Homo sapiens: one gene and its partner. The protein of the gene in region 1 interacts with the protein of each later gene in a pairwise test. Each region holds a gene or a part of one and is shown in the gene's direction. Other genes may lie near its edges.

The links.
Region 2: the proteins of ZBTB25 (region 1) and HCLS1 interact in a two-hybrid assay, tested with the Homo sapiens proteins (one large-scale study listed by BioGRID and IntAct).

What each region holds. Positions count from the first base shown.
Region 1 is NC_000014.9:64,483,299-64,487,125, reverse strand, and holds part of ZBTB25 (zinc finger and BTB domain-containing protein 25), read left to right. Parts: coding exon 1-203; 3' UTR 204-3,827. UniProt on the Homo sapiens protein: May be involved in transcriptional regulation.
Region 2 is NC_000003.12:121,647,203-121,651,029, reverse strand, and holds part of HCLS1 (hematopoietic lineage cell-specific protein), read left to right. Parts: intron 1-3,581; coding exon 3,582-3,711; intron 3,712-3,827. UniProt on the Homo sapiens protein: Substrate of the antigen receptor-coupled tyrosine kinase. Plays a role in antigen receptor signaling for both clonal expansion and deletion in lymphoid cells. May also be involved in the regulation of gene expression.

The sequences.
Region 1 (3,827 bases):
ATACACACAAAGGTAAATCTTACAGATATAACCGATGCCAAAGGTTTGGTAATGCATTGGCCCAGAGATTTCAGCCATACTGTGACAGCTGGTCTGATGTCTCCCTGAAAAGTTCTCGCTTGTCACAAGAACACTTAGACTTGCCTTGTGCCTTAGAGTCAGAGCTCACACAAGAAAATGTGGATACTATCCTAGTTGAGTAGCAGCTTCTCTTTCAGAATTTTTATACCAATTCTGAAAAAGAAAATTTGCGTGGCATTTTTAATTCATAAATTATTTTCCTCCTCAAGTTTCATTGACTTTTTTTCTTCACAGCTTATCCATGGTTTTAAGGTTGTATATATTAGATCTTCTCATAAGACATATTAATATGTGGCTATTAAAATGTAACATTCAATTACTACTGTGAACTTTTCACAAACGAAATAACAATTTAGAAATCAGAAATCAATGTAGAAATATGGAAACCTTAAATAGTTATTTATAGAATTCTAAGTTTTTCCAGTTATAGAATCAGTAAAATCAAATTGAATATAAAGTAAATGAAATCTGTTTTAAAGCATATTCTAAACTATCACTTCTGCCTACATTTCACATGAATTCACTCCTACCAGGATTATTTTTAAATATTTTCTTCCATATAGGAAATTAATAGTTACTTTAATGCATAACTGTATGTTATACATATGTTATAATGTATAAAAATTTATTTTAAGATATACCAAATCATGAGTAGTTTTATTTTTTAACTACTAGCTCCACAACATCTTACCTACATGGCTTCTCTTTACTTTTTAACATTGAGTATACCTCTTTTTTTTTTTGAGACAGAGTCTCTCTGTGTCGCCCAGGCTGGGGCGCAGTGGCGCGATCTCGGCTGACTGCAAGCTCCGCCTCCCGGGTTCACGCCATTCTCCTGCCTCAGCCTCCTGAGCAGCTGGGACTACAGGCGCCCGCCACCACGCCCAGCTAATTTTTTTGTATTTTTTTAGTAGAGACGGGGTTTCACCGTGTTAGCCAGGATGGTCTCGATCTCCTGACCTCGTCATCTGCCCGCCTTGGCCTCCCAAAGTGCTGGGATTACAGATGTGGTATATCTCATTTTTAATAAAAAAAACAGTTAAAGGGAGAAGAGTCAGAGAGACATTAAAAAATATTTAAGAAACAGTAAGATATACACACATAGATAAATAAGCATGCAGAGACAGAGACTGAGCTAGAACTGCATTGACTAAAAACCCCAGGGTTGTTAACTTGGTCTAGAGTGTTTTCTTAGACACCTTAAAAAGTAATTTGAGATTTTATGACCAGAGGTTTACATGAGTTGAAAGAGAATGATGATAAAATATAAATCATGTTTCTACCCTCAGCGTCAGGATTTTTGGGGCTTCCTGGGTTGATTTTAATTTTCTAAAAATCACTGAAAAAGTAATTTTTCAGTGGCACAGTTTTCACTTTTTTCCTGATCCATAAAACCAGCAAAGTGGATACATTCAGTGTTCTATAACTACATTTAAGATCCATGATGTTAGCTTTTCCTCTATAAATCAACTTAACTCTCTTTTATAATGGTGACACTTACAAAGCTAAAACCCCAGGAAAATTAAAGTTGATGAAAGAAATAACAGATTCCCCGGCTCTATATACCTGGGAAATAGCTGGTTAAGCTTCACCACAAAGGATAGATCTAAATTGTTTCTGAAATGTTTAAATTTCAAACCCCGCATAGTCAAGGATAATAAAACAGACTCATCTTTTTTTGCCCTCTTGTTAAATTCTAAGCTTCACGGGCATTTGAATACATCTAAAAAATTTGGTTTGTGAGCCTTAGAATTTAACCACTTACAAAACTCTTGAGCTCCCTCCACTTCTGAGGACGTTTCCTGACACATTCAACAGCATCAGCGTCCAATCAGGAGGGAGCTCAAAGAGTAATCCAGCTAATTCTAAGGACACAAAGGTTTTCTCTAGGTAAACAGTTTAGGTAAATTACAAAGTGGTAAGTTTTTCTTGAGGATTGAATGAAGAAAGCTACTGGATATTGTGTAAGGCAGTTGAGTTTCTGCCTTAAACAAGTGAGTAAAGGCTCCTATGGTTAAGACTGATGTGTGTTGAGAGCACATCTAACTTGATAAGATCAATTGTATTGGGAGTAATTAAAACAAATGTATGTTCTTTGGGGTCAGAACTTTGTCTAATCTTAAACTTTTTTCTACCAATTCACTTAAGCAACTATTGAAATTTGTACTGCCCTCAAAAATATCATCTCATTGGAAGAACACAAGTATTAACATTGATTTTTTGTATTTTAGGCTAGTTAAGATATATTTCCTAGCCTTCTTCAATTCAAATTCTATTGTTCTTATTAAGATAATTTTTCTCCTCTATATTCTTCCCTGTTTGCCTACTCATTATTATTATTTTTTTAATTTAATTTTTTTTTAAGATGGAGTTTCACCCTTGTTGCCCAGGCTGGAGTGCAATGGCGTGATCTCGGCTCACTGCAATCTCTGCTGCCTGGGTTCAAGCGATTCTCCTGCCTTAGCCTCCCAAGTAGCTTGGGATTACAGGCATGCACCACCATACCCAGCTAATTTTGTGTTTTTAGCAGAGACAGGGTTTCACCATCTTGGTCAGGCTGGTCTGGAACTCCTGACCTCAGGTCATGCACCAGCCTCGGCCTCCCATAGTGCTGGGATTACAGGTGTGAGCCACCGTGCCAGGCCCACTCATTATTCTTTGACACAGGAAATCCTTGTATATAGCTAAAGGGTGGAGGTAGAGTTGTACATGGTTGGTTGGATAAGACAGCAAGTGCCTCAGGGCAGAGTTTGGATAAATGGTAAGAGTTTGCTAGCAGCTGATTGGCCGTGATAGACAACACTCATTTAAAGCAGAAATATATCTGTTCGTTGAGAGTTAAGAAAATAGTGGTTAACTGTATTTCTATTCTTATAGTTCCTTTTAATATTAGAAATTCAAAGCAAATGCTCTTTCCTTGTTCCTTAAAACATTCATTCTGTTTAGGAAGTGGGAAAATATCAACTTCATTTTATAGAAAAAAAATCCCAAAAGCTGAATTCCAGAGATGCAGTGAATAGTGGTGTGGGACTGACCCCCAGTTTTTGTTATTGTTGTTTTCATTTATTCTGCAGGCTTTTTTTTTTTTTTTTTTTTTTTTTTTTGAGACAGTCGTGCTGTGTCGCCAGGCTGGAGTGCAGTGGTGCAATCTCAGCTCACTGCAACCTCCGCCTCTCGAATTCAAGTGATTCTCCTGCCTCAGCCTCCTGAGCATGTGCCACCATGCCCAGCTAATTTTTGTATTTTTAGTAGAGACAGGGTTTCACCATGTTGGCCAGGATGGTCTCGAGCTCCTGACCTCATGATCTGCCTGCCTCAGATTACAGGCATGAGCCACCGCGCCCGGGTCTGCAGGCATTTTTTAAAGTAACTGTCATATGCCTAACACTGTGCCCTGAGTATTATTTTTTAAAGACATGATTGCTCACTGAGAAAATTTGCTTTGTATTTTAAAAGTTCTTCCAGCTAGGCCAGGCGTGGTGGCTCATGCTTGTAATCCCAGCACTTTGGGAGGCCGAGGCGGGCGGGTCACGAGGTCAGAAGATCCAGACCATCCTGGCTAACACAGTGAAACCGCGTCTCTACTAAAAATACAAAAAATTAGCCGGGTGTGGTGGCACACACCTGTAATCCCAGCTACTCGAGAGGCTGAGGCAGTGGAATAGCTTGAACCCGGGAGGCAGAGGTTGCAGTGAGCGGAGATCGCACCACTGCACTCCAGCCTGGGTGACAGAGCGAGACTCCAT
Region 2 (3,827 bases), on another chromosome or scaffold:
CTGAGTAGCTGGGACTCAGGCGCCCACCACCAAGCCCAGCTAATTTTTGTATTTTTGGTAGAGACGGGGTTTCACCATAGTGGCTAGGCTGGTCTTGAGCTCCTGACCTTGTGATCCACCCGCCTTGACCTCCCAAAGTGCTGAGATTACAGGCGTGAGCCACCACACCTGGCCACTTTTTCATTTTATTAATGGCATCTTTTTAAGAGCAAAAGATCTTAATCCTGATGATGTCTAATTTATTGAAAAAAAATTTATGGGGCTAATGCTTTATGTGTCTAAGAAATATTTACCTACCCCAAAGTTGTGAAGACTTTCTTTGATGTTTTGTCCTAAAGGACTGACAGTTTTAGCTTTTACATTTAAGTCTATGACCCATTTCAAGTAGACTTTTCTGTGCAGTGTGAGGTCAAGATTGAGGTTCATTTTTCTCCATGTGATTATTTAGTTGTTCAACAATATTAAAAGAGTATTCTGTTCCCATTGACTTACCTGGCATCTTTGACCACATACATGTGGGTCTATTTCTGGACTCTATTCTGTTCTGTTGATCTATTTTCTACCCTGACAGCATACCATACTGCACTGATTATTGTAGCTTTATAAGTCAAGAAATTATGTAGTCCTCAACTTTGCTCTCCTTAAAAAAAAAAAAAGAAACAAAAGATTTTACTATTCCAGGACTTTACATTTTCACATAAATTTTATAATTCACTAGTCAATTCCTACAAGAATGCCTGTTCAGATTTTGATTGGGATTGCATTGAATCTATAGATCATTTTAGGGAGAACTGACATCTTAATGATATTGAGTTTTCCAATCCATGAACATGGGATATCTCTCCATTTATTTAGATCTTCTTTAATATTTTCAGAAATATTTTTTAGTGTTTAGGTCTTGCACATACTTTGTTAAGTTTATCCTAAAATGTTTCATGTTATTTCATGTATTTATATTTAACTTCCAGTTTCCAAATGTTTATGGCCAGTATGTAAAAATACAATTGATTTTGATATAATGACCTTGTATCCTGTGACCTAGCCAAATGCACAATGCTTTAGTAGCTTTTTTTGTGTGAATTCTTTAGGATTTTCTACATACATGATCAGGTCATCTGTGAATAAAAACCTTATATTCTGAGTCACTCACATTTGTGCTTTTAGTTTTGTAATAAAAAACAAACACAGATTGAGGAATGAGTCATCTTTGAGGTGCTACATTTTGCTTGGTTCACATAAACTGCATTGCTTTATCAATACAAAGTCTTTTAAAACTTAAATTGGATATCTGAGAGTTAATATGTCAAAAGTTTCTTAGGCACAACACAGCATATTGAATTGGAATTTTTTGTTTTCCTCTCTATCTCTTCTAGCTGTCCTCTATCTCCATACATAAAACATTTTTGTGTCCTCAGAGCCTAACAGTACCTCACACTTAAAAGTTGTTTAGTTAATAGTTATAAAATGAAGGAATGATGTGATTAAGACCTGTTTAGGCCAGGCGTGGTGGCTCACGCCTGTAATCCCAGCACTTTGGGAGGCCAAGGCAAGAGGATCACTTGAGGTCAGGAGTTTGAGACCAGCCTGGCCAACATGGTGAAACCCTGTCTCTACTAAAAATACAAAATCTAGCGGGGCATGACATGCATGCCTGTAATCCCAGCTACTCTGGAGGCTGAGGCAAGAGAATCACTTGAACCCGGGAGGCGGAGATTACAGTGAGCTGAGATCATACCACTGCACTCCAGCCTGGGCGACAGAGCAAGATTCTGTCTCAATAATAATAATAATAATAAAGACCTGTTTAGAATGACTTCCACTATAACCTAAAGAAGTCTGTTTTCTTTGGGCCTCAACAATTTCATTCAAATTATATCATTGGTATGATCCCCTGACTAGTTTTTCTGTTATCCTTTAGATGAATATTTCTGAGTATCATTTTCTAATCCCTTTTAAAAACTTGTTTTAACTATAATATAGTTATAACCCATTTAACAATTATTATATTCATTAAAAAATTGCAGATTTTTTCCATTTGAAAGTAAATTTTGGCCCCATTTTCTTGATCTTTCATCTGAATACTTCAGTTGGAAGATATTGGGCAGGCATTTACATGTCCTTGGTACTAGTAGCTTATGACACAGTGTTGGTGTTGAACTGACAACACAAGATCTCTGCTTTCAACGCTGCCAGAGAGTTTAGAGGAGGCATGGGAACAGGGGGTTCTTCCAGCACTTGGCTTAATTTCATCTGGTTCATAGCCAGCTTTCTAAAATTAACTGCGGCTAAAGCTGAGAAGGCTTTTTAAAAAGACCTTTGGTAGAATTATCCACTAAAGGCCACCAGATGGATCTATTCTTCCTTAAAAGAAGACAATTTCTGCTGTGAGACAGCCATTCTACGTATAACCAATGTGTCTGGTTGTCCTGCGCTGGTAAAGTCCCAGCTCACCATCTAACATCACTATCTTAATACCCTAAACCCTCATTGCTTGCTGCAGAAAGTCAAATTTCTTATTTAGGGTTCTCTTGCCCAAATGTTTCCAAGAATCCCCGGATCCTTATATGTGTCCAAATAACAGATCTGATTGTCACGTGGGGCTGAGCTATCACTTCATATCCTCAAGCCAAAGAGGTTGGCCAAGATGGCTTTCTGCCCTCTTAATTGTTGCAGTCACCTTCATGGTAAAGATGGAAGTGGGTGTGAAGTAAGAAAGATAATGCCTTTTTTGGTGGTACTTTCTCTTAGGGATAGAGGTGTCCCTTCAAATCAAGATAATTTGAGGCTTAAAGTGTTATAGCAATAACTGTGAGTGGATTTTCTTAGTTAGTTTTCATTAGTCCTTAGTTTTCTCAGGTATTATCAGCCTGGGGGGAAGGGGCAGAAGATCTTAATTCATGACCAAAAAGCATAAAAAATACCACTAATGTTTACATAAATTTCCCCAGTTCTGTGTTTTTATAAGCATTATATTTAATGACTTCCTAGTACACTAGTGAAAGGTAGTATTTCAATTTATTTAACTATTATCCAACCATTGGTCATATAGATTGTTTCTTAGTTATTGCTATTATATACGATGCTTCAATGAGTATCATTTAGACATTAAGGACATTAAGCTTTGCCATATTTAAAATCATTTCCCTGGTGTAGACTGCTAAAACTAGAATGTGTAGGTCCAATGGTATGTGAATATTTTTCTGCTTTTTGAGACACATCCTCTAATTGATAGAAAGCAGATCCATTCAGAAAAGAAAATAACTTTCCAGTTATCAGAATATAGGTACCATTGTCCTCTAATATTTAAGAACATGAAAAATGGGACTAAAGATCAGAAGGTTATTTTAGTGAGCAAATAACAGACTAGAGGAAATATTATTGGCCTATGGAGAGTTTAAATCAGGCTATGGTATGCAGGCCAGACTGATCTTTTACTTCCAGACCCATCACTAGTATATTTTGGGGGCCCAGGTTATTACTGAAAGTAAACAGGACAGACTTCAAGGCTTCCATTTTTCTGGGAAGATGGGTTTCTTGATCTCCCTAGGATAGATGAGCCTTGGTCATGTGGTTTCTTCCAGCATCCACCAGCTGAGGAACAAAGTATCAGAGGAGCATGATGTTCTCAGGAAGAAAGAGATGGAGTCAGGGCCCAAAGCATCCCATGGCTATGGAGGTCGGTTTGGAGTAGAAAGAGACCGAATGGACAAGGTAAGTTGAAAGGGAAAGATTTGCTTTAAAAAAATACAAGCCGGGTGCGGTGGCTCACGCCTGTAATCCCAGCACTTTGGAAGGCCAAGGTGGGTGGATCATGAGGTTAGGAGATC